Regions from separate parts of the Homo sapiens genome. Here all the other regions are linked to region 2. Evidence: fine-mapped expression QTL. A gene starts in region 2. Each other region holds a variant in brackets. All regions are shown on one strand. Distances are from middle to middle.

Region 1 (10,101 bases), 45 kb after region 2:
AGCAATCCGCCCACCTCGGCCTCCCAAAGTGCTGGGATTACAGGCATGAGGCACCATGCCTGGCCACCTGCTGTTTAATTAGTGCTAAGTGTGTGTATGTGTGAGTGTGACTGTGTGTGTGTGTGCGTGTGCGTGTATGTGGCCCACAGAGAGAGTTTCAGCAGTACCCACCAGGGCCAGCTCTATACTAAGCCCTTGACACACACTGCCACATGAAGAAAGAGCTTCCAATATCTATCATTAAGGATGAGAAAATTGAGACTCAGCAAAGCTTACTGACTTTTCCAACATCCAACCCAGCCACCTGATTTGTGTCTCCAAATCCTCAACCACCCACTATCAAGCCTGACTCATCAAGTATTGCACGAGGGAAATGGATTTTCTACAAAATAAGAAAACCCAGGCTGAGTAGTGGCTCACACCTGTAATCTCAGCACTTTGGGAGGCCGAGGCGGGTGGATCACGAGGTCAGGAGATCGAGACCATCCTGGCCAACATGGTGAAACCCTGTCTCTACTAAAAATACAAAAATTAGCCAAGCATGGTGGTGCGCGCCTGTAGTCCCAGCTACTCGGAAGGCTGAGGCAGGAGAATCGCTTGAACCCGGGAGGCGGAGGTTGCAGTGAGCCGAGATCACACCACTTCACTCCAGCCTGGTGACGAGCGAGATTCCATCTCAAAAAAAAAAAAGAAAGCCTGAGCCTTCAGGCCTGCATTCTGGCTCGTTTATTCTTTCACCAGCTGGAGTCCTCCCCCGTGGCAGGTGCTGGCTGAGCCTGGGGAGAGCAGGCCACACGGGGGAAGGTGCTTTGAGACCCTCCCCAGAAGAATCCTCCAGCCTCTGGCTAAACCCCCAGCCACCTTCACCAGCCACATCCAGGCTCCTGGGAGCAAACACGAGCTCTCTTGGCTTCCTAAGAACCAGTTGTCCCTGTCCCCACCTACCCTCACCCCAGCAGTGCAGGGAGGGGGTCCCCTCCTGAGAAGGGTCACATTCTAGGCCTGAGGGCGGCCAAGCCAGCCCAGTGGTGTTTTCTCAAGCTGCCTGAAGAAACAAGTCCAGCATCTGGCCTTCCTGCTGTGATAATCCTCTTCCTGCCCCTGCGCCCCCTCCCCACTTGGCCGGAAAGCGGCAGGCTTTCTCTTCCCCTCCTTACAAGGGAGGCCTGGCTGGAATGTGTCCCTTGATAACGGGGCTCGTGAGGGGCTTGGCATAGAATGGGCTGCCTGCTGTGGGCTCTCAGACACATGTGGGGCTGACTGATAAGGGCCCTGCTGGCCTTCTGCGCTGAGGCCCCATTTGACAAGCTGTGGGCAGGATTTGAAGAGGGGTCAGTGTTCACAGAGTACCCTGGAATCCATCAAATGTGCAGGGAGCGGGCTGGGCACAGTGGCTCATGCCTGTAATCTCAGCACTTTGGGAGGCTGAGGTGGGTGGATCACCTGAGGTCAGGAGTTCAAGACCAGCCTGGCCAACATAGTGAAACCCCATCTCTACTAAAAATACAAAAAGTAGCTAGGTGTGGTGGTGCACGCCTGTAGTCCCAGCTACTTGGGAGGCTGAGGCAGGAGAATTGCTTGAACCCGGGAGGCAGAGGTTGCAGTGAGGTGAGATCGCACCATTGCACTCCAGCCTGGCGACAGAGCGAGACTCCATCTCAAAAAAAAAATTGTGCAGGGAGCACAGCCTTGGGCGGACCCTGTGTGTGCATGGGGGTGGGAGTGAGGGGAGGGAGACCCAGTCACTGTCCCCAGGGGCTCACAGTGTAAGGGCCCCTGGGGTCAAGGACATGAAAAGAGGAATTTGCTAGGTACAAAGTTGGTTTTTTTTGTTTTGTTTTGTTTTGTTTTGTTTTGTTTTTCAGACAGGATCTCACTCTGTCACCCAGGCAGGAGTGCAGTGACACAATCATGGCTCACTACAGCCTCTACTTCCTGGGCTCAAGCGATCCTCCTGCCTCAGCCTCCAGGGTAGCTGGAACTATAGGCATGCACCACCATGCCTGACTAATTTATTAATTTTTTATAGAGACAGGGGGGTCTCACCTACCCAGGCTGGTCTCAAACTCCTGGGCTTAAGTGATCCTCCCACCTCAGCCTCCCAAAGTACTGGGATTACAGGCATAAGCCAGTGCGCCCAGCCTGAAGTTATTTTATTCACCCATTAATTGTGTCGACAAATCTACAGATGTCACACTGAATGAATGAGTCTAGAATGAAGGTTAAGAATCAGGGCTCAGATATCAGCCAGGCCCAGATTCGAGGCATAGCTCCATTACTTAGTGGCTTTGACTTACCGTGTAAGACTCCATTTCCTCATCTGTAAAATGAGGAGAACCGGCCAGCCGGGCGCAGTGACTCACGCCTGTAATCCCAGCACTCTGGGAGGCCGAGGTGGGCGGATCACCTGAGGTCAGGAGTTTGAGACCAGCCTGGCCAACATGGTAAAACCCCATCTCTACTAAAAATACAAAAATTAGCCGGGCGTGGTGGCAGCCTCCTGTAGTGTCAGCTACTTGGGAGGCTGAGGCAGGAGAAGCGCTTGAACCCGGGAGGCGGAGGTTGCAGTGAGCCCACTGAACTCCAGCCTGGGCAACAAGAGTGAAACTCCATCTAAAAAAAAAAAGAGGAGAACCAAGTACCTACCTCAAAGGCACCTCATGAGGGTTTGGGGAGATGGCACACATATTGCACGCAAAATGGGCTTGGGGACTGGTAAGCCCTCAGTAAATGTTTTGTTTTTGTTTTTTTTAGATAGTGTCTTTCTCTGTCACCCAAGCTGGAGTGTGGTGGTGTGATCTCAGCTCACTGCAACTTCCACCTGCTGGGTTCAAGTGATTCTCCTGCCTTAGCCTCCCAAGTAGCTGAGATTACAGGCCCCCACCAGCATGCCCAACTTATTTTTGTATTTTTAGTAGAGACAGGGTTTCACCATGTTGGACTGGCTGGTCTCGAACTCCTGACCTCAAGTGATTCACCTACCTCGGCCTTCCAAAGTCCTGGGATTATAGGCACAAGCCACCACACCCGGCATGTAAATGTGGTTTTTTTTGTTTTGTTTTTGTTTTTGTTTTTGTTTTTGAGAGAGTCTCACTCTGTCGCCCAGGCTGGAGTGCAGTGGTGCAGTCTCGGCTCACTGTAACCTCTGCCTCCCAGGTTTAAGCGATTCTCCTGCCTCAGCCTCCCAACTAGTGCACTCCAGCTTGGGTGACAGAGAAAGACACTAGCTGGGATTACAGGCATGTGCCACCACGCCCAGCTGATTTTTTGTATTTTTAGTAGAGATGGGGTTTCACTGTGTTAACCAGGATGATCTCAATCTCCTGACCTCGTGATCTGTCCGCCTCGGCCTCCCAAAGTGCCGGGATTACAGGCGTGAGCCACCACACCTAGCCCTGTAAACGGTTTTTAAACCATGACACTGGCTCCCAGTGCTTTGGGAGGCCAACGAGGAAGGATCCCTTGAGCCCAGGAGTTCAAGACAAGACTAGGCAACAGAGCAAGACCCTGTCTCAAAAACAAAAACAAAAACAAAAAAACACAAAAACCATGACTGCTGGAATCCCAAGGGCCCGGAGATGAAGAAGTGCTCTCCCCTCCACCTGCCTCTGCAGGGCTGTGTGGGTTGGGAGTAGCCATGAGGGCAGTGTCTGAGGACACAGGGCAGCTTCCTGGAACCTGGGCTGGGAAGAGGGTGCAAGGGGCAGAGCTGGGAGCAGGGGAGCCTCTCTCCTGGGGCCCCGGGCTTTTGTGCATGTGCCTCATTCCATCCTCTGCAGACCAGCCCCCTCTGCTATCATGGCTGCCCCTCATGGATCCCTCACCCCAAGTCCAGTTTCTCTTCCAGTTAGACAGAGCCCACCCCATGTGACCAGAGTCTCCCAGACCCGATTCCAAATGGCCAGGAGAGCTCAAACCCAGGCCCAGCTTGTGTCCAGCCCTGGCCGAGCCCACTCAGCTGAGGCTGCTGGCGGGGGCCTGTGGGTGCAGGCAGTGAGCTCTGTAAGAGAGGGGCTGCGCCACCCCTTGCTGTAGGACCCCAGCCTCCAGGCCAGGGCCCCTGTGTAGCAGGTCCTCAAAAAAGCATTTTCTAGGCCAGGTGCGGTGGTTCATGCCTGTAATTTCAGCACTTGGGAGGCTGAGGCAGGAGGATCACCTGACGACAGGAGTTTGAGAACAGCCTGGCCAACATAGTGAAACCCCGTCTTTACTAAAAATACAAAAATTAGCCGGGCGTGGTGGTGGGCGCCTGTAATTCCAGCTGAGGCAGAAGAATGGCTTGCACTCTGGAGACAGAGGTCACAGTGAGCTGAGATCACGCCCCTGCACTCCAGCCTGGGCAACAGAGCGAGATTCCGTCTCAAAAAAAAAAAAAAAAAAAAAAAAAAGCATTTTCCAGGACAGCTCTTGCTTCTTAGCCCTTCGCATACATCAAACCGTTTAGGAACACTGTCTAATTACAGCCGGGGCAGGACAGTTCTTGTCTCCATTTCACAGTCCGGGGAAGTGCTTTACCCCAGGCCACGTGGCAACTCAGGCCTGCAAGGCCCCAGCCAGGGGTGGGCAGGGCCGGTGGGAGGGAGAGGGTGCCTGGGGAGTTAAGAATATCCCTGCAGTGCTCAGCCTCTGGGTCTTGTGATGCCGAAACTCAAG[C/A]GCCCCCTGACTCAGCAGGATATTAATAAGCCTGGCCGGTTCCCAGGGGGCCGGCTCTGCCAGGGGCTGGAACAGAAGGACTCCCAGCCCTGCGGCCCGGATCCCCCTCCCCATGGCAACACAGCCCCACCCCTACTCCTTCTCCAGGTGCCCCCTAGCAGCCCCACAGCCCAGAGTCTCCCAGAACAAATTAATGTGGGGGAGCCCCCCAACCCACTGCTGAGCATATTGGGCAAATCTCACCGAGCTGAAGGGACCCTTCCTAGAAGGGATCCAGGAGGAAAGACAGAGCCAAGCAGCCTGGGAGAGGGAAGGGGTTTGAGCAGCCAACAGTGTGGGTTTGGGATGGGAGCTGAGTTGCAGCCCTGGTTCTCCCATTTCTAAGGTGCTCACTTGGGACAAATCCCTTATCAACACTAAGCCTTGGTTCCTTCCTTCCTTCCTTCTTTTCTTTTCTTTTCTTTTCTCCTTCTTCCCTCCCTCCCTCCCTCTCTCTCTCTCTCTCTCTTTCTTTTTGAAACAAGGTGTCATTCTGTCACCCAGGCTGGAACACAGTGGCACAATCATAGCTCACTGCAGCCTTGACCTCCTGGGCTCAAGCAATCCTCCCACATCAGCCTCCTGAGTAGCTGCGACTATAGGCCTGTGCCACCACACCCAGCTAACATTTGTATTTGTTTTTGTAGACACGGGGGTCTCACCATGTTGCCGAGGCTGGCCTCAACTCCTGTGCTGAAGCCATCCTCTGGCCTCAGCCTCCCAAAGTGCTGGGACTACAGGCATGAGCCACACACTGCTCGGCCTGAGCCTTGGTTTCTTTTTTCTTTTCTTTCCTTTCTTTTTTTTTTTTTTTTTTTTTTTGAGACAGACTCTCGCTCTGTCGCCCAGGCTGGAGTGCAGTGGGTGGCACGATTTCGGCTCACTGCAAGCTCCGCCTCCCGGATTCACGCCATTCTCCTGCCTCAGCCTCCCGAGTAGCTGGGACTACAGGCATCCACCACCACACCCGGCTAATTTTTTGTATTTGTTAGTAGAGATGGGGTTTCACTGTGTTAGCCAGGATGGTCTCGATCTCCTGACCTCGTGATCTGCCTGCCTCGGCCTCCCAGAGTGCTGGGATTACAGGCGTGAGCCACCCGTGCCTGGCCTTTTTTTTTTTTTTTTTTTTTTTGAGACAGAGTCTTACTCTGTCGCCCAGGCTGGAGTATAGTGGCTCGATCTTGGCTCACTGCAACATCCGCCTCCCAGGTTCAAGTGATTCTTATGCCTCAGCCTTCCAAGTAGAGATGGGGTTTCTCTCTATTTTTAGTAGAGACGGGGTTTCACCATGTTGGCCAGGCTGGTCCTCGATTTCTTAATGTGTAAAGTGGGGATGGTAATGGTACTTCATTTCTGGTTTTGCTATAAGGACCCAGTGAGGCAGCTGTCCTGAAGGGCGAGCCTTGGGAGCCCTGGCTGTCCAGGCTGGTCTCAATGGACCCGGCTGTCAGGGCCACTCTCGGCTGAGTTTCTGTCCTACAGCGCCCTCTAGTGGGAAAAGGTGGTCATTGCAGGGGCATCCAACTCAGGTGGCCAGGGAGCTTTCCTATCCCAAGTTGGAGTCCAAAATGTGCCCTTTCTGATCAAGTTAAATTCATGGCCCTTATTACATATGCACCAGCATGGTACGGCGAAGGAGGACAAAGAGAATGAGACCCATTCCCTTCCCTTTGGAGGCTCAAAGGGCAGCACTGCCTGGTTTGGGCATCAATGTGACAGTCAAGTCTGGGTCCTGGTCCTGCCCTCTCAGTGGCCTGCACAAGCCACACCCTCCCTGAGCTCCAGAGTCCTCCTCTGTAAACAGGATCACAAAACTTTCCGGTGGTAAGAGCTACGGAGAGGAACTAGGAAGAGCCAGCAGGAGGCTTGTGTTTGAGATGCGATGGCCAGGGAGCCCACCTTTGAGGAAATACCCGAAGCAGTGAGGGAGAGATCTTTGCAGAGACCTGGGAGGCCAGCGAAGGCCTGTGCCAGTTCAAGGAAGAGCGAGAGGTCAGTGGGGTCAGCGCGGAGCGATGGGGGCCGGAGGAGATGAGGGGAGAGGGGCTGTGTGTCACGATCAGTGCAGTAGGATGCGTAATGAAGGGCCCTGGCCCAGGTGGCCATGGAGGCCTCCCAGAGCAAGGAGTGTCCAAGCTGCGGGTGGCAGAGAGGGGTGGGAGAGCTCGGAAGACCTGATCCCAGTGCGGCCCCAACACTAACATCCTCTGTGGTCCAAGATCAGCCCACATCCCCTGAGCTCAGTTTCCTCATCTGCAACATGAGGGAGCTGGCCTAGCTACAGCCCCTCTTTCTCTAATCTGACACCTGCCGCTGGGGCCAGGGCTCCAGCCTGACTGCGTAATGCACAGGGACCCCCAGCTAGCTCAGGGTAGGCGGCGTTCGTGAAAGGTCCTCACACCCTCCAGTCCAGGCTTTTGCAACCCCTGGGCCTCAGCTGGATGTGTGAGTGGAGTAGGGGCAGCATCAGATCTTTTGACCTGAGGAAGGCCAGCAGCAAATGCCCCAGGATCTGAGAGCTTGCTGTGCTCGCTGCTACCAAGTTGTCTTTGCTTACAGGCTGTTAAGGGGTGAATTGTGCGTCCCCAAAAAAATATGCTGATGTTCTAACCTCCAGTCCCTCAGAATGTGACCTCATGTGGTCTTTACCGAGGTAACCGGGTTAAGATGCGGTCATCGGGGGGTGAGACCCTAATCCAATATGACCGGTGTCCTTATAAAAAGGGGAAATGTGGCCCGGTGCAGTGGCTCACGCCTGTAATCCCAACACTTTAGGAGGCTGAAGTGGGAGGAGCCCAGGAGTTTGAGATCAGCCTGAGCAACATAGGAAGACTCTGTCTCAATAACAACATAAAACTAGCCGGGTGTGGTGGCACCACATGCCATGGTCCCAGACACTCCGAAGGCTGAGGCAGGAGGATCACTTCAGCCCAGAAGTTTGAGGCTGCAGTGAGCTAGGATCACACCACTGCACTCCAGCCTGGGCCACAGAGTAAGACTCCATCTCAAAAATATGAAATTAAAATCAAAAGGAGGGGGGCAGGCGTATTGGCTCATGCCTGTAATCCCAGCACTTTGGGAGGCCAAGGCAAGTGGATCACTTGAGGTCAGGAGTTCGAGACCAGCCTGGCCAACATGGTGAAATCTCGTCTCTACTAAAAATATAAAAATTCGCCAGGCATGGTGGTGCATGCCTATAATCCCAGCTACTTGGGAAGCTGAGGCAGAAGAATCACTTGAACCTGGGAGGCAGAGGTTGCAGTGAGCCAAGATCATGCCCCTGCACTCTAGCTTGGGCAACAGAGCAAGACTCTGTCTCAAAATAAATAAATAAATAAAAAATAGAAAGGAGAAATGGCCACACAGAGAAGACATGCAGAAGGAAAGAGGGAAAGCAACATTAACACGCAGAGAGAAGGCCGGGCGCAGTGGCTCACGCCTGTAATCCCAGCACTTTGGGAGGCTGAGATGGGTGGATCACCTGAGCCCAGGAGTTCGAGCCCAGCCTGGACAACATGGTGAAACTCCATCTCTACTAAATACAAAAATTAGCCAGGCATGGTGGTGAATGCCTGTAATCCCAGCTACTTGGGAGGCTGAGGCAGGAGAATTGCTTGAACCTGGGAGGCGGAGGTTACAGTGAGCTGTGATTGCACAACTGCACTCCAGCCTGGGTGACAGAGCTCTGTCTCAAAAAAAAAAAAAAAGACACAGGGAGAAGACAGGCTGTGAAGAGGGAGGACAGGAGTGACTCCGCCACACTCCAAGGAACACTGGAGGCTGCTGGAGGCTGGAGAGAGGCCTGGGCAGAAGGATTCCCAGCACCTTCAGACGCAGCGTGGCCGAGGCTGCAGAGAGGCCTGGGAGGGAGGATTCCCAGCACCTTCAGACACAGCGTGGCCCTTTCCACCCCCTCACTTTGGACCTCAAGCCTCCAGAAATTTGGGGCAGAACATTTCTGTGTTCTAAGCCACCAGTTTGTGACATTTTGTTACCGTAGCCCTGAGAAACTACGCCACAGCTCTTCCAGTGTGCCAAAGACAGGAAGGCTACCCCCAAATTCATAAGTTCATGTTGATATTTCTTTCTTTTTTTAACACTTTATTTATTTATTTATTTTTATTTTATTTTTTAAATTATACTTTAAGTTCTAGGGTACACGTGCACAACATGCAGGTTTGTTACATGTGTATGCATGTGGCATGTTGGTTTGCTGCACCCATTAACTCATCATTTACATTAGGTATTTCTCCTAATGCTATCTCTCCCCCCTCCCCCCACCCCACAACAGGCCCCAGTGTGTGATGTTTCCCATCCTGCGTCCAAGTGTTCTCATTGTTCACTTCCCACCTGTGAGTGAGAACATGCAGTGTTTGGTTTTCTGTCCTTGCGATAGTTTGCTCAGAATGATGGTTTCCAGCTTCATCCATGTCCCTGCAAAGGACATGAACTCATCCTTTTTATGGCTGCATAGTATTCCATGATGTATACATGCCACATTTTCTTAATCCAGTCTATCACTGATGGACATTTGGGTTGGTTCCAAGTCTTGGCTATTGTGAATAGTGCCGCAATAAACATACGTGTGTATGTGTCTTTATATTAGCATGATTTATAATCCTTTGGGTGTATACCCAGTAATGGGATCGCTGGGTCAAATGGTATTTCTAGTTCTAGATCCTAGAGGAATCACCACACTGTCTTCCACAATGGTTGAACTAGTTTACACTCCCACCAACAGTGTAAAAGTGTTCCTATTTCTCCACATCCTCTCCAGCACCTGTTGTTTCCTGACTTTTTAATGATCACCATTCTAACTGGTGTGAGATGGTATCTCACTGTGGTTTTGATTTGCATTTCTCTGATGGCCAGTGATGATGAGCATCTTTTCATGTGTCTGTTGGCTGCATAAATGTCTTCTTTTGAGAAGTGGTTGTTCATATCCTTTGCCCACTTTTTGATGCGGTTGTTTGATTTTTTTTCTTGTAAATTTGTTTCTTTGTAGATTCTGGATATTAGCCCTTTGTCTGATGGGTAGATTGCAAAAATTTTCTCCCATTCTGTAGGTTCACTCTGATAGTAATTTCTTTTGCTGTGCAGAAGCTGTTTAGTTTAATTAGATCCCATTTGTCTATTTTGGCTTTTGTTGCCATTGCTTTTGGTGTTTTAGTCATGAAGTCCTTGCCCATGCCTATGTCCTGAATGGTATTGCCTAGGTTTTCTTCTAGGGTTTTTATGGTTTTAGGTCTAACATTTAAGTCTTTAATCCTTCTTGAATTAATTTTTGTATAAGGCATAAGGAAGGGATCCAGTTTCAGCTTTCTACATATGGCTAGACAGTTTTCCCAGCACCATTTATTAAATAGGGAATCCTTTCCCCATTTCTTGTTTTTGTCAGGTTTGTCAAAG
Region 2 (10,101 bases):
ATCCAGGCGCTGGAGTACAATGACGCGATCTTGGCTCACTGCAACCTTTGCCTCCCGGGTTCAAGCGATTCTCCTGCCTCAGCCTCCTGAGTAGCTGAGATTACAGGTGCACGCCACCAAGCCCTGCTGATTTTTGAATTTTTAGTAGAGACGGGGTTTCACCACATTGGCCAGGCTGGTCTCAAAGTCCTGATCCACCTGCCTCGGCCTCCCAAAGTGCTGAGATTACAGGCGTGAACCACTGGCCCGGCCTTTTCTTTTTTTGAGACGGAGTTTCGCTCTTGTCGCCCAGGCTAGAATGCACTGGTGCCATCTTGGCTCACTGCAACCTCTGCCTCCTGAGTTCAAGCAATTCTCATGCCTCAGCCTCCCAAGTAGCTGGGATTACAGGCGTTAGCCACCACACCCAGCTAATTTTGTATTTTTAGTAGAGACCAGGATTCACCATGTTGGTCAGGCTGGTCCTGAACTCCTGACCTCAGATGATCCACCCGCCTCGGCCTCCCAAAGTGCTGGGATTACAGGCGTGAGCCACTGCGCCCGGCCTTGACTACTTGTTTCTATCCTGCTTTAGAGCACAGGGATATATGCAGAAGGACAGCCACCCTAGAGTAGTTTTTGAATAGTTACACAATGGAAACAATGAAATGTCCAATAACAGGGGATTGGTTACATAAATTCTGGCCCATCCATGTGACAAAATGCCAGGCAGCCTTTGAAAAATAATAGAGTGTCATGGAAACATGGCCAGATTTATATTGTTAAGTGAAAAGGATAGGTTGCTTTTCAGAAGAATGTATAATGTCATCACATGTTTAAAATGCATATTTTGGGGCCAGGCGCAGCGGCTTACATCTGTAATCCCAGCACTTTAGGAGGCCAAGGCAGCAGACCACTTGAAGTCAGGAGTTCAAGACCAGCCTGGCCAACATGGTTGAAACCCTGTCTCTACCAAAAAATACAAAAATTAGCTGGGTGTGGTGGCATGCACCTGTAGTCCCAGCTACTCGGGAGGCTGAGGCATAAGAATCACTTGAACCCGGGAGACAGGGATTGCAGTGAGCCAAGATCATGCCACTACATTTCAGCCTGGGTGACAGAGTGAGACCTTGTCTCAAAAAATAATAATAATAATTTTTAAATGCATATTTTTGTGTATGTTGCATATATATGATATATAGAGATATAGCTTATTTAGTATATATTATTTTCTAATTAATAAAGTAATGCTTGGTTGATGCAAAATATTTTAGTAATTGGAAATGAGACAAGTGAGAAACCGTTTATATCCTGATCACCCTCACGTTAACACTGGGTGGTAGGATGAAACCTATATCAACCGCGTGTGTTGAATCTATTGCAGTAAGTATGTAACACTTTGATAGTAAGAAAAAATAAGGCTATTGGTAAAATTATACTCTTTTATAAATTGGCTAATTATTTTGTGGATGTGTGTCCTGGTATCCCCAACTAGACTGCGAGATCAATGAGAGGACGAGATCAATAAAAGCATTGAATGAATGAATGGATGGATGAATGAATGAATGAATTCTCAGTCTCTTGGGAAGTGGGATTGTGCGGCCCATATTGGGTGCTTATAAAGGTTTGTGGGGGCCAGGCACAGTGGCTCGTGCCTGTAATCCCAACACTTTGGGAGGAGGAGGCAGGAGGATCACTTGAGCCCAGGAGTTCGAGACCAGCTTGGGCAATATAGTGAGACCTCGTCTCTAAAAAAATAAAGTAAAAATAAAGGCTTGTGGGTTGAGGCAACCAGGAGTGTCTGTGGTCCCATCCTGCCTCCCTGTATCTGGGTGCTATAGTAGGTGGTTCAGGTTAGCCCACCAAGCTTGCTTGCTCTTGCTTCCCAGCTACCTGAGACTGTGAACAGTGTCACCCCACCATACAAGGGAGAGGAGCAGGTCTCAGGGTCCTGGAGGAAGCCACCAAAACCATCACAGACAGAAAGAGCCCTTCACACAATCTTCTTGCCAGCCCTCAAAGGGGAAAACGGGCTTGGAATGGCGAAAGGATTTGCCTGGGGTCACTCTGGAGGTGGCTGAGCCAGGGTTTGAACCTGGGGCCATCCTACCCCAGACTTTATGTCTTAACTACTGCTGGGCAGGAGCCAAATCAGACCCCATGGCCCCAACAGTGTGAGGCCCATTGTGGCTCTCAGAACATGCCAGCAGCTCTAGCCAGACGAAATGCTGACACAGCCTCTGGGTATTAATAGCCCCTGTCTGGGCCGGGCTCCTGTGCCCCTCCTGAGGCCACCCAGGGAGAATGGGGTGAGTGCTTGGTGGGGAGATGAGCAGATCAGTTCCCTGTGGTCCAGGGATCTGAGTCCAGCGGCCCTCGTGCCACCCCCCATAGGGACCACTTAGGAGCCGGACCCCTTCTCTTTTCAGCTTCCTGGCTCGAGGCCTTCACCCACTCAGCCTCAGCTTCCACGTCTGTAAATGGGGATATCACAGCTGCGTTACAGGACTGTCATTAGACTTTGTCGATAAGCTGAACACATAGAGAGCTCAGCACACAAAGAGCTTATACACGCTCAATATCCGTGCCTGGCGTGCACACTTCCATGTGCGCCAGGTTCCAGCCGTCTAGTGTCCGGGATGAAGCAGCACATGTCATCATTGCTGCACCCAAGATGGCAGGACGTCTCGCGGCCACGACATCCCCTCTATGGCCGCACAGTCTGAGTGGAGCACGCTGGAGAGGAAGAGTGGGGAATGAGGCAGGTCTAGCCTGCTCCAGCCCAGCTGGACCCAGCCAGGGCGTCTGCAGGGAACCCCAGACTGAAGGCTCCTGGACTCTGGCCTCATCCCTGCCAGGAAAGGGGTGGAGGCCAGACCACAGGGTTGGGCCCTTCTGAAGCGGGCACTCAAAAGGAAGAGACGGCTGTGCCTCGTTTGTCAAATGAAATCAATTACTAACCCACAGGGCTGAAATTGATTCCTAACTCACTCTGCAGCAGGGACTCAGCTCAGCGTTTCACAAACACTGTCTCACCCGGACTCACGAGAGCCCTAAGAGGTGGACACTGTCATTCCCATGCGACAGGTGGAAACACCAAGGCCCAGGGAGGCCAAGTGAGTTGCTCAAGGTCTCCCAGCTGGTTGATGGCGGGGCAGAGCCCCGTCTGTCTGACTCCAGAGCCTGGGTGCCCATCCCCCATGGCCAGGGAACACCCACTCCCTCCCAGGGCAGCTTCCTGTTCTTGGGAGGCTCTAGGTGGGCCTGAGGCACCGTGGGCTGGCTCCATGGTTGGAAGAGAAGTTGCAGCCCCCTGCCTTCATCTGGGCGAGCAGACAGGCCTTGGCCACTGAGAATCAGGAGACGGAGGAGCTCACTTCTGACTCTTCTGGTCAGCTTAAATTGGCAGCTTCCCCCATCGAGCCCAGGCCCAATCAGCCCTAAAAGGGCTGTGGAGACTTCGGGTTCCCACAGGTGGTCCAGATGGGAGCAGGGATACCTCCCTCACATCCGGAATCCTCAGCTGGGCCCTCTGGGTCTGCGTTCTGGGTTTGCAGCCTCTCGTCCCCTTGGGCCCCATGCAGCCACACGGGCCTCCTGGGCCTCCTGCAAGGCAGGCTGTCCCCGAATGGGACTCCCCCTTTGTTCTTCCTTCCTGGGGGCAGCCGTCCCTGATTCCCAGACCAGACCCAGAGCCCCCAGAGCCCCGCTTCTAGGATCCTGCCACACATTTGCACACCTGTGACCACTTACACGTGTCCTTCTTTCCATCCCCACTGAGCTGTGAGCTTTTCGCAGTGCGCCCAGCACTGACACACTGCCAGGCGCTCGGAAACTATTTACGGGTTGCCTGAAGCTGCTGTCACACTCCCGTCCTTTGCGAAGTTCCAGGTAGTGGAGGCAACCTCCAAGAGGCAATCCATTACCAACCAACTCATGACCCCTCCCTCCGGTGGAAATCAGAGCTCACGGAGTGTCGTTTGATTGGACTGTGATGCACTGAAGCTGAATTCAAGACTGATTTAAAAAAAGACCTGCCAGCTGAATGAATGCTGTCACAGAGGGAGGAGCTGGACCTGGCCCCAGGGACCCAAGATGATGCTGTCAGTGACGTCGTTCACTCCATCTGGTGCCCAAAGAGGCCTCGGCCCAAGCAACACCGTCCAGTTTACAGGACCAGGTCCAAGCTGCCCGGCAGCTGGGGCAGGCAGGCCTGACTTGCAGGGGTCTGGACGGCTCAGAGGGAAGCTGGTAAAAGCAGGGTAAGCCCAGGTCCCACCTCTGCCCCTTCAGAGGCCAAGGCCACTGCAGAGTCCAGAGCAGCCGGAGGACTACATTTCCCAGAGTCCCCCAAGCCCAGGGATGAGCCATTGGCCGATTTAAATAGCCCAGGCCCGAGGCAGCCAGGCCGCAGCTGTGGACTCCTCACCTCCCGGAGGCTCTGCTGGTGCAGGCCCCGCATTGGAGGGCTCGATTGGCTGCCCGGCTGGCACTGACGTCCCCTTGGAGCTGGGTGGCAGAGGAGATAAACAGCCATGTGCAACTCTCCACACTATATTTAACAGCTGCGGCGGAGAAGGCAGGGAGGCAGCCACGGTGGCGGCTCTGGGGGCAGCTCTTGTCTTCGGGGAGAAGGCCCTTGGAGCCGGGCTGGCATCGGCCTTCTCGGGGTGAGCGAGGTCACCATGCCAGCTTCCCAGAGCCGGGCCCGTGCCCGGGACCGCAACAACGTCCTCAACCGGGCTGAGTTCCTGTCCCTGAACCAGCCCCCCAAGGGGGGCCCGGAGCCCCGCAGCTCGGGCAGAAAGGCCTCGGGCCCATCAGCACAGCCCCCACCTGCTGGTGACGGGGCCAGAGAGCGACGCCAGTCACAGCAGCTGCCAGAGGAGGACTGCATGCAGCTGAACCCCTCCTTCAAGGGCATCGCCTTCAACTCCCTGCTGGCCATCGATATCTGTATGTCCAAGCGGCTGGGGGTGTGCGCTGGCCGGGCGGCGTCCTGGGCCAGTGCCCGCTCCATGGTCAAGCTCATCGGCATCACGGGCCACGGCATCCCCTGGATCGGAGGCACCATCCTCTGCCTGGTGAAGAGCAGCACACTGGCCGGCCAGGAGGTGCTCATGAATCTGCTCCTGGGTGAGTGTGCCTGCCGCCCGCCACTCACTGTCAGGCCCCTCGGGAGGCAGCCTGGCCTGCCCAACCCCACCCTGGCCGGGACCTGCACAGCCCTCAGAAACCGGCTGGGATGGTCTAATGAGGTTAGGCAGGAAGGGTGCCCCAGAAACAGGCAGGCTCCGGCGTGGGGGAGCGACAGCCAGGGATGCATAGACGAGGCTCTCCTGCCACATGCCAAATGAAGACAGAGGCCATTGCGGCCCTGTGAGAAGGACCTGCTCAGCAAAAGGCACCGCTGCCCAGAGGCAGCTTGAAGGGAGGCTGGGCCAGAGGCGGTGGCCTCAAGGGAGACGGTCAGGGCTCTGGTGGGCATCCTGGAATGGGGTGTCACTGTTTGACTCCTGCCCCACGGCTGAGGTCCTCGCTCCTTGACAGCTCCCAGCCAGGCTGTTCCCGTGAGCTGCCCCATGAGCACCTCCCGCCTCGGTTCAGGAACCGGGAAAGCTGCCCAGGCTTCTTCCCCAGGGTCTGGGGACCCAGGGAGTTCCCCTGGGACTGCCACCCACTCACAGCCCCCTGGAGTTCTTCCCTGCTCCTTCCCAGGGGGAGTCACTGGAGAAGGGTTCGGGGGGCCAGTTGTGGGTTTGTTTGTTTGCAAAGTCTTTGCCACCAATGTCTTGCAGATTAGCACCGCCCTGTGCCAGGTGCCACGTGGGGCCCATGTGGAGGCAAGCCATTCCCTCCACCCAGAGGTGATGCCCAGCCCCCGTCCGGCCCACCCTTCGGGCACCACCAGGTCCCCAAGGTGCCCCAGGAAGCTTCCACCCTCCACGCCAGGCCCGCATCGATTTCCTTGTCTTTCCCGGTGTGGCCATCATTTGAGGGACATGTGAGGTGGAGGTCTCAGGCAAGGCAAACATTAACAAGGGGTCTCAGTTCCAAAAGGGCATTGGGTTGGACCACGGAGAACATCAGTTCCAGAGGAAGTTACAATAAAAACACGTATCTCCCTGCTCTAGTCTCAGTCTGGAGGCTCTATGCTCTCTGGGTGGGACTCGGGGAGGCAGAAACCATTGGATACTTCATGCAGGAGATGGCTGGGTCTGCCACCTTCGAGGTTTTCTTGTTCCTTTTTTTTTTTTTTTTTTTGACAGAGTCTCGCTCTGTCACCCAGGCTGTAAGACTGAAGTGCAGTGGCACGATCTTGGCTCACTACAACCTTCAGCTCACTACAACCTCCGCCTCCCGGGTTCAAGCAATTCTCCTACCTCAGCCTCCCAAGTAGCTGGGATTACAAGCGCACACCACCACACCCAGCTAATTTTTGTATTTTTAGTAGAGATGGGGTTTCACCATGTTGGCCAGGCTGGTCTCAAACTCCTGACCTCAGGTGATCCACCCGCCTTGGCCTCCCAAAGTGCTGGGATTATAGGCATGAGCCACCGTGCCTGGCCAGTTTTCTTGTTCTTATTACTAAATTATTTACATTACAATAACTTATGATTTACTCCTGAATAAACAGTCTCACGAGGTTGGTGCCATTATCATGCCCATTTTACAGATTAGGGAACTGAGGTTCCTATAAATAAAGCAACCTGGCCCAGCCTCAGGGCTTGAGATTTGCACTGGCTCCAGCTGACACACAGGCCTCTGCTCTTCCAGGTGCTGTGCCATGGGCGTGGGAGGGAGGGACAGAGCAAAGTGGCCGAGGCACTAGGCCAGGCGCTTCCAGGGGCAGAACCTGCTCTCATTATCCACAGTTTCACACAGGGCCACGTGGCTCAAGAAGACTGTTGGGATTTAGAGAGGTAGGTTGCCTGCTGTCAGAAGATGGGGTGGGAAGGCATACACTCCAGTCTGTCTCTCAACCCTGCTCCCTTGACCCCATCTCTTCCTTCCCACCTTCTTTCCCCATGTGACAAGGGAGGTGATGAAGATGTCATTGGTTGAGTGCTTACCGTGTTCCAGGGCTTTGCATAAACCATATCATTACTTCTGATCTTCACCATAACCCATGGAGCTTGGTGCTGTTATTATTCCCCATTTAAAGAGGGGGAAATTGAGGCATGGGGTGACGATGGTTCTAAGGTCCTGCAGCTAGTCAGTGATGGAGCCAGGAGCAGAACCAGGAGCAACTCTAGCTTTGCTTTGCGTTTTCAGAGGAGAGGGAGAGGGAACCAGCTCAGACTGTGTGAAGCTTCCAGCAGGGGGAGGATCAGAGAAGAAAGGAGGTGCATCTCAACTTACCCACAGTCAGTGGATGCTCTAGTAAGGGGGTGAGCTCCCCGTGGTAGGAGGTATGCAAGCAAGCTGCCTCACATCACCAAGTAAAATAGCTCTGCTTTGTTTTTTTTTTACAGGAATGTTTGCTTTTAAGAACATTTCCCCTGCCCCAAACATTGAAAAATTTGCAACCTACTTGTTAAGATAAGGCTTCAGGCTCATTCCAGCAGCCAGCTGCCATGGGCACAAAGCTGTTTGCCCCACAGGATAAAGATGAAGATTTGAGTTGCCTTCCTCCTTGAACAGAAGTGATAGACATTTTTAAAAATCTTTAAAAACATCATGTATTGAGCTTTATTATGTACCAAAGACAATGGCATGAACGGCCTGTATTTTATGATGTAAAAAAGCTGTCGATGACCTTTCAAGGTAAATATTAATATGCCCATTTTACAGATGAGTAAACTGAGGCTCAGAAAGCTCAAGCAACTTGCCCACCATACAGCTATAAGCGGTAGGTTCAGGAAGTAAATCCAAGGCCCCGTGACTGCAAACCCCCCCACTCCTCGCTGCTCACCGTGGGGCTGCAGGTCGGGCATATCACCCGTGTTCACTGCACTCCTGGAGCGTGTGTGCTTTGCGGAGGGGAATGATCTGGGAGGAGGTTGACTGTCTTCATATCCAGGTGTTGAGGCCATGGGGACATAGGGCCTGGCACAAGTCAGGCATTCAGCATAGGCCACAGAGCAGGCCGGGTGGGTCTGGGGACCCCGAGGTCACTCTGTGGGGATGCCAGCCCAGACCTCGGCTTGGTGGGAGAAAATTGCAGCAAATGGCCAAGGCAGGCTCTAATCCTGCAGCTCTGGTCTGACCTGCCAGGAAGGAAGGTCCCACAGTCCCCTGCCCCGGGGAAAGCAGACTGCCCACTGAGCACACGCTGCAGGTTCCATCTGTCCTTTTGTCTTTGGAGGGCACCCTTCAACCCTGGAGCACAGGCTCTGGGGAGAGACTGGCTATTGTCCAGGTCCCTGCTCTGACCCTTACTTGCTGTACGCACATGCTCAAGTCAGTTCCTGTCTCTGAGCCTCAGTTTCCCTATCTGGGGGCTGAGGGGGATGTGGCAGGGATGTGAAGGGAGATGGCAAAGCATTTGGCATGGTGGGTGCCATGCCACACGGTGACATCACTGCAATACTGAAGGGGGAGGGAGCCCTACCTAGCCCTGCCCACCCGCTCTGGCCCCGTGGCACTCAGCTAACCCCCAGGGGCAGTCTCTGGGCTGGGAGCAAGACCTCCGAGCTTGCAGTTGGGACCTGGGTTCCACTTGGCTCTGAAGAGGCAGACTTGGGAGCTTGGGAAATGGGAGCTGCAGCTACGAGGCCTAGGAAGGGTCCTGCTGGGCCTGGGGAAGTTCTCTGCATGCTCCCTGCTTGGCAAGCAGTCCCATGCCCTCCCTGCTTGCCCCTCTCCTAGTGCACACTGTCAAGACTCTAGAAAGCTCAGAGCCAGAAGGGGTCTTAGCAGCAGGCAAAAGTTTGGACTCCACAGGCAGCCGGACCTGAGTGCAAATCCCAGCCCTGCTGTGGGAACTCAGGCAAGTGACTTTGCCTCTCTGAGCCTCAGTTTCTTCATCTGTCAGGTGGGTTGTTGGGAAATCTCCCTGATGAATCACACATGAAGTGCTTGGCACTTACTGATGTTGGTTAACGGTTAAGTAGCAATGATTATCATCATCATTATCACCGTCATCATTGTCAGAAGTCCAGGACCAGCCTCCTGCCAGGTACCTTCCAAGCTCTAGATGCCTTGAGACCACCTGTCCCCTTCTCCCTCCCGAGCAGCACCCAGCTTGATGATCCGAAGGGAGCCAGGTGACAGGTGACAGGTGACCAGGCCCATCCCAGTTCACTAAGCCCATCCTTGTTTCCTCATGGGCCTGTCCTGTGGTGGGAAATGCCTCTGGTCTTGTTCCTTGATCTATGTCCTTTATGAAAGTATCTTTTTGTTTGTTTGTTTGTTTGTTTGTTTGTTTGTTTTTGAGACACAGTCTGTCTCTGTTGCCCTGGCTGGAGTGCAGTGATAAGATCTTGGCTCACTGCAACCTCCGCCTCCCGGGTTCAAGCAATTCTCCAACATGGTTTCGTTATGTTGGCCAGGCTGGTCTCGAACTCCTGACCTCAGGTAATCCACCCACCTCGGCCTCCCAAACTGCTGGGATTATAGGCGTGAGGTGATCCACCCACCTTGGCCTCCCAAAGTGCTGGGATTACAGGCTTGAGCCACTGTGCTGGCCTATAAAAGTATCTTTTTTTTTTCCTTTGAGACGGAATCTCACTCTGTCTCCAGGCTGGAGTGCAGTGGTGTGATCTTGGCTCACTGGCATGAACCCGGGAGGCGGAGCTTGCAGTGAGCTGAGATCGCACCACTGCACTCCAGCCTGGGCGACAGAGTGAGACTCTGTCTAAAAAAAAAGTATCTTTATTGAGATTTTCCTGAATATGAAAACTACTTTTTTTTTTTTGAGACGGAGTCTCGCTCTGTCACCCAGGCTGGACTGCAGTGCTGTGATCTTGGCTCACAGCAACCTCTGCCTCCCTGGTTCAAGTGATTCTCCTGCCTCACCCTCCCGAGTAGCTGGGATTACAGGTGCCCGCCACCACGACTGGCTAATTTTTGTATTTTTAGTAGAGATGGGGTTTCACCATGTTGGCCAGGCTGGTCTTGAACTGTTGACCTGATGATCCACCTGCATCAGCTTCCCAAAGTGCTGGGATCACAGGAGTG
Region 3 (10,101 bases), 550 kb before region 2:
CCCGCCACCATGCCTGGCTAATTTTTTTTGCATGTTTAGTAGAGACAGGGTTTCACCGTGTTAGCCAGGATGGTCTTGATCTCCTGACCTCGTGATCCGCCCGCCTTGGCTTCCCAAAGTGCTGGGATTACAGGTGTGAGCCACTGCGCCTGGCCTGAATCTTCTTTTTTTTTTTTTTTTGAGACAGGGTCTCACTCCGTCACCCAGGCTGGAGTGCACTGGCATGATCTTGGCTCACTGCAATCTCTGCCTCCCAGGTTCAGGCAATTCTCCTGCCTCAGCCTCCCGAGTAGCTGGGATCACAGGCGTGTGCCACCAAGCCTGGCTAATTTTTGTATTTTTAGTAGAGACAGAGTTTAGCCATATTGGCTAGGTTGGTCTTGAATTCCTGGCCTCAAGTGATCTACCCGCCTCAGCCTCCCAAAGCGGTGCAATTACAAGTGTGAGCCACTGCGCCCAGCCTCTATTGAATATTCTTACCCTTTGGTAGTTGAGTGTTTTGGAATGGCGGTGTGTAACAAACATACCTTATGTATGCTTTTATGATTTATAATTTTATGCTGTTATGAAATTTTATAATTATAAAATTATTTATAATTTAAAAAATTTATACATTGTCCTACAAGCTTTGTGGCAGTTTTACGATTTATTTTAAAATTAAATTGAACTTTTTTTGTTGTGTTTTTTTGAGATACAACCTTGCTCTGTTGCCCAGGCTGGAGTGCAATGGCATGATCTTGGCTTACCGCAACCTCCGCCGCCTGGGTTCAAGCGATTCTCCTGCCTCAGCCTTTTGAGTAACTGGGATTACAGGCACCTGCCACCACATCTGGCTAATTTTTGTATTTTTAGTAGCGATGGGGTTTCACCATGTTGGCCAGGCTGGTCTTGAACTCCTGACCTCAGGTGATCAGCCTGCCTCAGCCTCCCAAAGTGCTGGGAATACAGGTATGAGCCACTGTGCTAGGCCTAAATTGAACACTTTTGAATAGATAATACATTTTCTAATTTAAACTACAAAGCTACAGAACAAACATGTATTTTCAGAAGCTTGCTTGCACCTCTGCCACTCTGTCCTTTTCCTTCTCCTACTCCTCTGGAAAATTTTTTGTGTGTGGTTTTTTTTTTTTATCCTTCCAGTGTTCTTTTTTGCAAATACAAGCAAATATATATTTATTACACAAAAGATAGCATACAGTATATACCGTTCTGTACCTTCTTTTTTGTTTTTCCCTTAATAGATCCTCAGGATCTCCCCATATTGGAATATGTATATCTTCCTTCTTTTTATGGCTGCATTGAATTCCACTATCTTGGAAGTATCATTGGTTTTCCAACCAGTTCCCTTTCTGGACTTTTGGAGTGTTTCCAGTCTTTAGATATGATAAACAGTGCTTCAGGGGTAACGTTATAGCTGTGGGAGAGATTCCTAAAAGTCGGGGCACTGGGTTTAAGGGTACATGCGTTTGTCATTTCTGTTAGTAGATGGATTCTACTTGGTAGATAGCTACCATTTTGCGTATGTCTGTGTGTATATATATGTGTGTGTATATGTGTGTGTATGCATGTGTGTGCATATATATATATATATATATATATATATTTTTTTTTTTTAAGACAGGGTCTGGCTCTGTTATGCAGGCTGGAGTGCAGTGGCATGACCTCGGCTCACTGCAGCTTCAGTCCTCGGGGCTCAAGTGATACTCCTGCCTCAGCCTCTCTAGTAGCTGGAACTATAAATGTATACCACTATGCCTGGCTGTTTTTTGTATTTTTTGTAGAGATGGGGTTTTGCCATGTTGCCCAGGCTGGTCTTAAACTCCTGGGCTCAAGTGCCTCCTTGGCCTTCCAGAGTGTTGGGATTATAGGCATGAGCCACCACACCTGGCCTGTATTAATATAGAGTAATAGAGATCTATATTGGTAGATATTTCCACATTTTCTTCCGTAGACATCATTCTAGTTTACAGTCCCATCGCTGGTAATACAGAGGTTGCCTTCATCCCCAAAGCCTAGCTAAGAGAGTGTATTGTCAAGCTTTGGGACTTTTTCCAATCTGATATCTAAGAAATAGTATTTTAGTATGGTTTTAAATGGTAGGTCTTCTGTGAGTGAGGTTGAACATTGTTTTGTTTTGTTTTGTTTTTTGAGACGAAGTTTCGCTCTTGTTGTCCAGGCTGGAGTGCAGTAGTGTGATCTCGGCCCCACCGCAACCTCCGCCTCCTAGGTTCAAGCAATTCTTCTGCCTCAGCCTCCCAAGTAGCTGGGATTACAGGCATGTGCCACCACACCCGGCTAATTTTGTATTTTTAGTAGAGACGGGGTTTCTCCATGTTGGTCAGGCTGGTCTCAAACTTCCGATCTCAGGTGATCTGCCCACCTCGGCCTCCCAAAGTGCTGGGATTACAGGCGTGAGCCACTGTGCCCGGCCGGTTGAACGTTTTTAACATGTTTAGGGGAGATACATACTTATCTTTCTGTGAACCATCTCATCAGGTTCTTTGTGTGGCAGATATTTAAATAGGAAACTATGTAGGGCCTAGTTGATTGCCTATATAGAATCCAGTACCCTGTCTATGCCCCTTCACTGCCCAAGCATGTCACAAGGAACTGCCCTATTCCAAGCTCCAGAGGACCTGCTGAGTAGGTGCTTTTCAGGAGCTTGAAAAGACTGTTTCCAGGTCTACCCCCAGGGGTTAATTTAATTGGTCTGGGGAGAGGCCTAAGTATCAGTTTTTTTGTTTTGTTTTAGTTTTTTAGTAAGGAGAGACTTTATTGAAAAGGATTTTTGCAAGGAGGGGAAAACGACTGTTGAAATAGGGAGGACACTCTGACCATAAGGAGGTGTGCAGGCATCTTCTTTTTCAAAAAATGTTTTCAGTTTTAAAATTTAAAAAAAAATTTATTTTATTTATGTATTTATTTTGAGATGAAGTCTCACTCTGTCTCCCAGGCTGGAGTGCAGTGGCGTCATCTCAGCTCACTGTAACCTCCACCTCCCGAGTTTAAGTGATTCTCCTGCCTCAGCCTCCCAAATAGCTGGGACTACACGTGTGCACTACCACACCCAGCTAATTTTTGTATCTTTTGTAGAGATGGGGGTTTCACCATGTTGGCCAGGCTGGTCTCGAACTCCTGACCTCAGATGATCCACCCGCCTTGGCCTCCCAAAGTGCTAGGATTACAGGTGTGAGCCACCACACCCAGCCACCTGGACATGTTTAAAGAACCCAGTACCTCAGGTTTAAGGAGCTTTTATGTTTGGTCCAGACTACGTTTCAGGGAAGCCACAAGCAGAGTTTAAAGCCTGCTGAGCACCGAGCTGGTTCTTGGTGCTAACAGGGCTGAGACTAGTGAAAAAGTCATGTTGAGGCATCTGCTCAGTTCCAGTGTCTTCCTTGGCATCTGCTTGTGCCTACTGTTTGCCCCCTTTGCCTGTGTGTTAAAACAGCCTCTGTCTCAGAACAGTGTCTTTTTTTTTTTTTTTTTGAGACAGAGTCTCACTCTGTTGTCTAGGCCGGAGTGCAGTGGCACAATCTCGGCTCACTGCAACCTCCACCTCCCAGGTTCAAGATATTCTCCTGCCTCAGCCTACCAACTAGCTGGGATTACAGATGTGCACCGCCACACCCAGCTAATTTTTTGCGTTTTTAATAGAGATAGGGTTTCACCATATTGGTTAGGCTGGTCTCAAACTCCTGACCTCGTGATCCGCCCACCTCCACCTCCCAAAGTGCTGGGATTACAGGCATGAGCCACTGCAGTGTCCTTTCTTGAGGAATGGTGGTCTATTAGGAGAAAAACCAAAAGATAAGACCCGAGACCAAGGAAATTGTAGTCTCAATGCAAAGATACAATCAGAACATTGCACAAGGGGGAAAGAAATGTCATGCTAGTGTTTGTATTTTAATTGTCTTTCCTTATTTAGACCAATAGTAGTAACAGGTAACTTGGGTTGCATGCTTACTAAGTTCCAGGCAGTAGTCGAATAACTTTTAATATTTAATATTCAGAACAATAAGGAAGAAATGAAAACTAAGAACTTACTAGCAATCCGGAGTTTATATTTCTTGAAAAGCTCATTACAGGTAGTTGCTGGAATGAGATAGTTTGTGTGCATGAAGAAGAACACACAAAAATATTAAAACATGACATGAGTGATGGTAATACAGCAGGTCCCCAGATAATGGCCTTTCATTCACTATTGTTTCATTATCATGTTGATGAGAAAAAAAAATCAATTCCCTGCTGGAGCTACTGTCTATTTGGAATTTACACATTCTCCAGTGTCCTCGTGGAACTTAACTCTTGTTTATATCAATTACCTTGCTGATTGATGGACAAATCATGGAAAATTGGTTTTGTTATATGTCATTTTGCTCAAAGCCCCAGTTTCCAAGAACCTATCAATGACATTAAGTGAGAACTTACTGTAGTTATTCCCTCCCCATTCAAAACAAATTTATTGTTTAGAGGATATAAGGAGAAAACATTTTTTCCCTCAGATGTATCCTTCTGTGTGTTATGTGTCTTTTTCTTTTGAGACAGGGTCTTGCTCTGTCGCCCAGGCTGGAGTGCAGTGGTGCGATCTCGATTCACGGCAACCCCCACCTCCCTCGTTCAAACAATTCTCCTGTCTCAGCCTCCAGAGTAGCGGGGAGCCACCCGCTACAGGCGCGTGCCACCATGCCCGGCTAATTTTTGTATTTTTTTTAGTAGAGACGTGGTTTCACTATGTTGGCCAGGCTGGTCTTGCACTCCTGACCTCAAGTGATCCACCTGCCTCAGCTTCCCAAAGTGCTGGGATTACAGGCGTGAAACACTGTGCCTGGCCCGATATGTGTCTTTTTAGGCAAGCAGTGCTTATGTTGTTTGTTAGTGGTAAGCTGCCTTTGTAGCTCTGTGTTACCTTGAGTGAGACATGATGTGATGTTTAGTTCGTAGCATCCTCAGCACTGTCTTATTCACAATCATTGTCAATCTAAATGCATAGTCCTTCCTG[AT/A]TTTTTTTTTTTGAAGGCTTTTTAAAAAAGTTTAATTGAGATATGGTTACAATGGAGAAAAACCTTCAGGAAATATAAATGTAAAAAAAATTTTTAAGCTTTATTATTTATTATAAAAACAACATACATTTTTGTAAATTATTCAATCAAGGAAAATTGATTCAGAAAGCTATTTGAAATTCAATCAGCATGATCAATGATACTTTAACCCCTATTCAAATGAAAGTTATCCTAATTAAAAGTAGGTGCCCTAAGACCATTTTTCAGGGTGCATTTGGGTTCTATTGCTTCCACATCAGGAACTCATAATTACTGTATGGATTTTATAAGTTGATCCAACCATGGTATGACTTCTGTGGGTACTGGTAAGTCCACATCATTGCTTTGTAATAATGTATAATCATGACTGGATGCAGTGGCTCACGCTGCAATTTCAGCACTTTGGGAGGCTGAGGTGAGAAGATTACTTGAGCTCAGGAGTTTGAGACCAGCCTCCAACATAGGGAGACCCCAACATAGGGAGACCGCATCTCTACAGAAAATAAAAAATAACAATAAAAAATGTGTAGTCACAATGTTAAAGTGAATCAGAAGAGTTGCTAAGTTATGATCCTTTAATTGAATCAAAGTTTTTTGTTTAAATTGGCTTGCTGAGGAGTTTCCAGTAAATTAATAATGAATTATGTAATTAATATTATGTTAATATTAAATGTTATTTTAATCAGGTCACTGCCCTGCATGCCAACTTCCACTGAAGTGGGAATGTTTCACAGTGATTCAGTGGCCAATTAGCAATGCTCAGATTCGCCATTTATTGAGAGATTCACACACACACAATCAATCAAACATTCACAATGTGGTTATTAAAGGCTGTAATTAGGGGGACAATGAACCACAGGGATGGCTCAGAAGGTCAGAGCACTGATGGACCCTCAAGTGGGTTGGAAGTCCCTTGGATGCTAGTAAGTGAGGAGTGGCTGTTCCTCTCCTGGAGAGCCGCTGGGCGGCAATTGTCATGCTAGGAGGAGGCCTCAGAGTTCTCATGGGCAAAGATTCCAAAGGCGCCCCAGACATCATCAGCTCCTTGCTGTGTGTATGATTCTCCAAAGGTCTGCCCAGTATCATGGTCTCAGCCAGCTCTTGGCTCCATTTTTCCATCGGTGGTGGTACTATGCCACAGCAGGTGTTATTATCTCACCACCTTATTCTATTAGACGTATGTTTATCACTTCGAAGAAAAACAATTTTACTATGATCTCAGTTGCCAGGCTAGTACACATGTGCTTATCATTCTTTGTTTGCTTTTCTTTTGAGTCAAGGTCTTGCTCTGTCACCCAGGTTGAATTGCAGTGGCACGATCATCGCTCACTTCAGCCTGTAATTCCTAGGCTGAAGGGATCCTCCCACCTCGGTCTCTTGAGTAGATAGGACTACAGGTGTGCACCACCACACCCAGATTTTTTTTTTTTTTTTTTTTTTTGTAGAGAAGGGTCTCACTCTGTTGAACTCCTGGTGGCCTCAAGGGATCCTCCTACCTCGGCCTCACAAAGTATTGGAATTACAGGTGTGAGTCACTGCAGCTGGCCTTCACTTATCACTGTGAGGAGTAAACAGCTGCATGGTGGGCTTAATGCCATCTAACACGAGTGACTCCATGTTCAGACAGTAGGATCACAAATGATTATTATATAGCAATGAATGGCCACAGGTACATAGACTAAGGAGCCACATCCCTGCTCCTGGGATATCCTTTAGTCAAAGGGCTAGAAGGGTCCTGGAGGTTTGCCACTTCTCCGTGTTGAGGTACAGAGTTCCTAGACTAAGGGACTGGCTGCATTGTTATGTGTGAGTGCTAGTCATGGTGCTGCCTGGCACCCACAAATGCCACAGCAGACCCATGGTCGAGGGAGAGGAGCAGGAATACCAGTTACCATGCCGGAGTAACAGTTACGGCACTGATGCACCAGTTACCATGCCAGAGTAACAGTTACAGCACTGGTATACCAGCTACCATGCCGGAGTAACAGTTACCACACTGATATACCAGTTACCATGCCGGAGTAACAGTTACCGCACTGATGCACCAGTTACCATGCCAGAGTAACAATTATAGCACTGGTATACCAGCTACCATGCCAGAGTAACAGTTACCACACTGATATACTAGTTACCATCCCAGAGTAACAGTTACCGCACTGATGCACCAGTTACCATGCCAGAGTAACAGTTACAGCACTGGTATACCAGTTACCATGCCGGAGTAACAGTTACTGCACTGATAATACCAGTTACCATGCTGGAGTAACAGTTACCACACTGGTATACCAGTTACCATGCCGGAGTAACAGTTACCGCACTGGTATACCAGTTACCATGCCAGAGTGACTGATTTTGACCAAGACCTTTGGGTTGTACAGAAGGGGTGAGACCATACCTGTCCTCAAGCATTTCCAACCTAGTGTAGAGAAAAACAGGAGCAAGATAAGAACAACGTACTGAAAAGGAAATTGGATGAGGGCCTGGAAAAAGGGGTAAAGTGAGCTGGTTGGGATTGGTGAGTGCCACAGCTTCCTGCCCCTTAACAGATCAGTGCCATGGTGGCTGTGGTGTCCCTGGCCCAGACCTTCTCAGACAGGGCCTGGGTGCCCTTTACAGAGCAGTTGGGAAGAGAAGGGAACCTAGCCTTGTGACCTTTTGCTCCACAGACCTAGTCCTTTGTTGTGGTGCGAGGCTCAGTCGTCAGCCCACCGAGTCATGTATGTTCTCTGGTTGCCCCTGGTTTTGGCTGAACTCAAAGGATGGCTGTCTGTGAGGAGTACTGGTACTTTTTGCCACTTGTGTGCCCTAACTGTGGTGGATGCCATTTTGGGGATTATGCTCAGCAGTGAGTCACGTGAGATGCACACGTAGCTTTTCGGTGATTAATCCAGGTCAATGCCCTTACCCACATACTTCTGAGATGTACTGATGATGACTACATTTAAAGCTTTTTCTCCATTGGCTAGAAGTTGAGACCCATTTCAACAAAAGCACTTCCACCTCTCCTGAAGTGCATTGGGAAAACTGGAGGCCATTACTAGATTTACAGATGATGGGCCGTGCTTAAATAACCCATCTTAGCTAGACTCCAGGTTTCGTCACATATTCCCTACCTGTTGCTGCCATTGAGGGCTTTCTCTGTGCTAGGCACTACCAAATAATGCTTTGGTAACTTTGGTAATTTGGTAAACTTGGTAATTTGGTAAATTTGGTAATAAAGAGCCTTTATTCTAAAGTGCAAATCTAAGTTTGGGGTTCAGTAGCTCAAAACTCTCTGGTGGTTCCCATTATATAGAGTAACAGTCTTCATTTTAAAAAAGGTCATGTACCCTTATTAGAATTTTGTGAGCAAACAAATATGTGTGTATCGTATGTATGTTTATATGTATATCAGATGTACGCACATTAGTATGTGCTATTAAGATACTTTATATTATATAATATATACTGTATAATACCGTATATTATAAAGCATTCATAAAATGAAAATGAAGATGAAATAAATTGCATTGTAAATATTTAAAACTTTAAAAAATGCGTTACTGGTACAAAATTTTTTTGTTTCTAAAAAATTATTATTAATGAGCAATGGGACTGAATTTGCTTCACCGTTTTTTTAAAATCTTGATTTAACATTTGTCATACAGCTATTTTAACATCTTACACTAAAGTTGATTCTTGTTTTTTGGAGACAGAGTTTCGCTCTTGTTGCCCAGGCTAGAGTGCAGTGGCGTGATATCGGCTCACTGCAACTTCCATCTCCTGGGTTCAAGTGATTCTCCTGCCTCAGCCTCCCAAGTAGCCAGGATTACAGGCTTGCGCCACCATGCCCGGCTAATTTTTGTATTGTTAGTAGAGATGGGGTTTTGCCGTGTTAGCCAGGCTGGACTTGAACTCGTGACCTCAGGTGATCCACCCGTCTTGGCCTCCCAAAGTGCTGGGATTACAGGTGTGAGCCACCACGCCCAGCCTAGTTTATTCTTTTAATAGTGCTTGGGGGAGGTAGCCTCTAAGATGACCCCCAGTGATTCCCCACCTCCTGGTATTCCTGGCTCTTTTGCAAATGTCAATTCTAATTTGGTCCTAAGGTCTCTCTCTTGAGAGTGGCTATAGATTCTAGCCCTGCCCAGGAAAATAGGTTTGAATGCATTGGTCAGGTGAGACACAGAGCAGCACAGCAAGACACATGAAATAGCAGAAGTATTTTTATTACTTACTGATCCCAGAGAGGAGAGAGAGAGAATCCTGGGCCAAAACCTTTATTGGGAGTCCAGGGAGTTTCCCAAGTGGGTTTCCTAGGGCTATTATGTTACCGAAGCCAATAGTTCTAATTGATGGGTTTAAAGGGAGCAGGCACAAGCTTTGTGGGGGTCACGCTGTGATTGAGACATGGTCACTGTAGCATATTCATCTAGTACTTGTGGGGTCGGGGAACAAGAGGGGTGAGCCACATAGGCCCTATGTAGCTGTCCTGTAAAGAGGTAGGGGAGGTGGCCATCAAGAGGCATGGTGTTAGGCAGATGTCTGGAGTGGCCACATTGAGGGATTGGAAGCGGGTGTGTTTCTATGCTCCCTTAAGGATATTTTTGGAAACAACATGCTTGCTGCATACAAATATTCAAACATTTTATCTTTAAAACAAATTTTAGTACTGGTAACATTTATTAACTTTTTTTTTTTTCCTGTTCCCTAATTTGCTACCCAGCTTTTACATCAAAGCTCCTATCACAACCCTTCTTGTTTTTTTCTTTTTTTCCCTGAGACGGACTCGCTCTCTTTCGCTAGGCTGGGGTGCAGTGGCCACAATCTCGGCTCACTGCAACCTCTGCCTCCCGGGTTCAAGAGATTCTCCTGCCTCAGCCTCCCGAGTAACTGGGACTACAGGCGCATGCCACCATGCCCAGCTAATTTTTGTATTTTTAGTAGAGATGGGGTTTCACCGTGTTGGCCAGGATGGTCTCGATCTCTTGACCTCGTGATCCACCCGCCTCGGCCTCCCAAAGTGCTGGGATTACAGGGGTGAGCCACCACGCCTGGCCCCTTCTTGTTTTTGTAGCTT

Direction of the effects. Alleles are on the strand shown, and positions count from the first base shown. SD is a standard deviation of normalised expression in the study named. Not every link is listed here.
As copies of AT replace A in region 3, the expression in prefrontal cortex of the gene that starts at base 4,390 in region 2 goes up (large effect, 0.80 SD a copy in ROSMAP).

Evidence for each region.
Region 1: its variant is fine-mapped to the expression of PLPP7 in left ventricle (GTEx, PIP 0.92).
Region 3: its variant is fine-mapped to the expression of PLPP7 in prefrontal cortex (ROSMAP, PIP 0.95).

What each region holds. Positions count from the first base shown.
Region 1 is chr9:131,330,248-131,340,348 of GRCh38, forward strand. All of the region lies in intron 1 of LOC105376299 (a long non-coding RNA gene), which reads left to right. Among named protein-coding and RNA genes, the nearest start is that of PLPP7, 46 kb to the left of the region's middle. RefSeq lists an enhancer at 1-834. The variant C/A (reference allele first, on the strand shown) is at 4,654.
Region 2 is chr9:131,285,334-131,295,434 of GRCh38, forward strand. It overlaps PLPP7 (phospholipid phosphatase 7 (inactive)), which reads left to right and starts at 4,390. Exons shown (of 2, transcript NM_032728.4): 1 at 4,390-5,115. The coding sequence starts at 4,665. RefSeq lists enhancers at 2,663-3,578, 4,157-4,276.
Region 3 is chr9:130,734,360-130,744,460 of GRCh38, forward strand. It overlaps a transcript of ABL1 not described here. Among named protein-coding and RNA genes, the nearest start is that of EXOSC2, 46 kb to the left of the region's middle. The variant AT/A (reference allele first, on the strand shown) is at 5,003.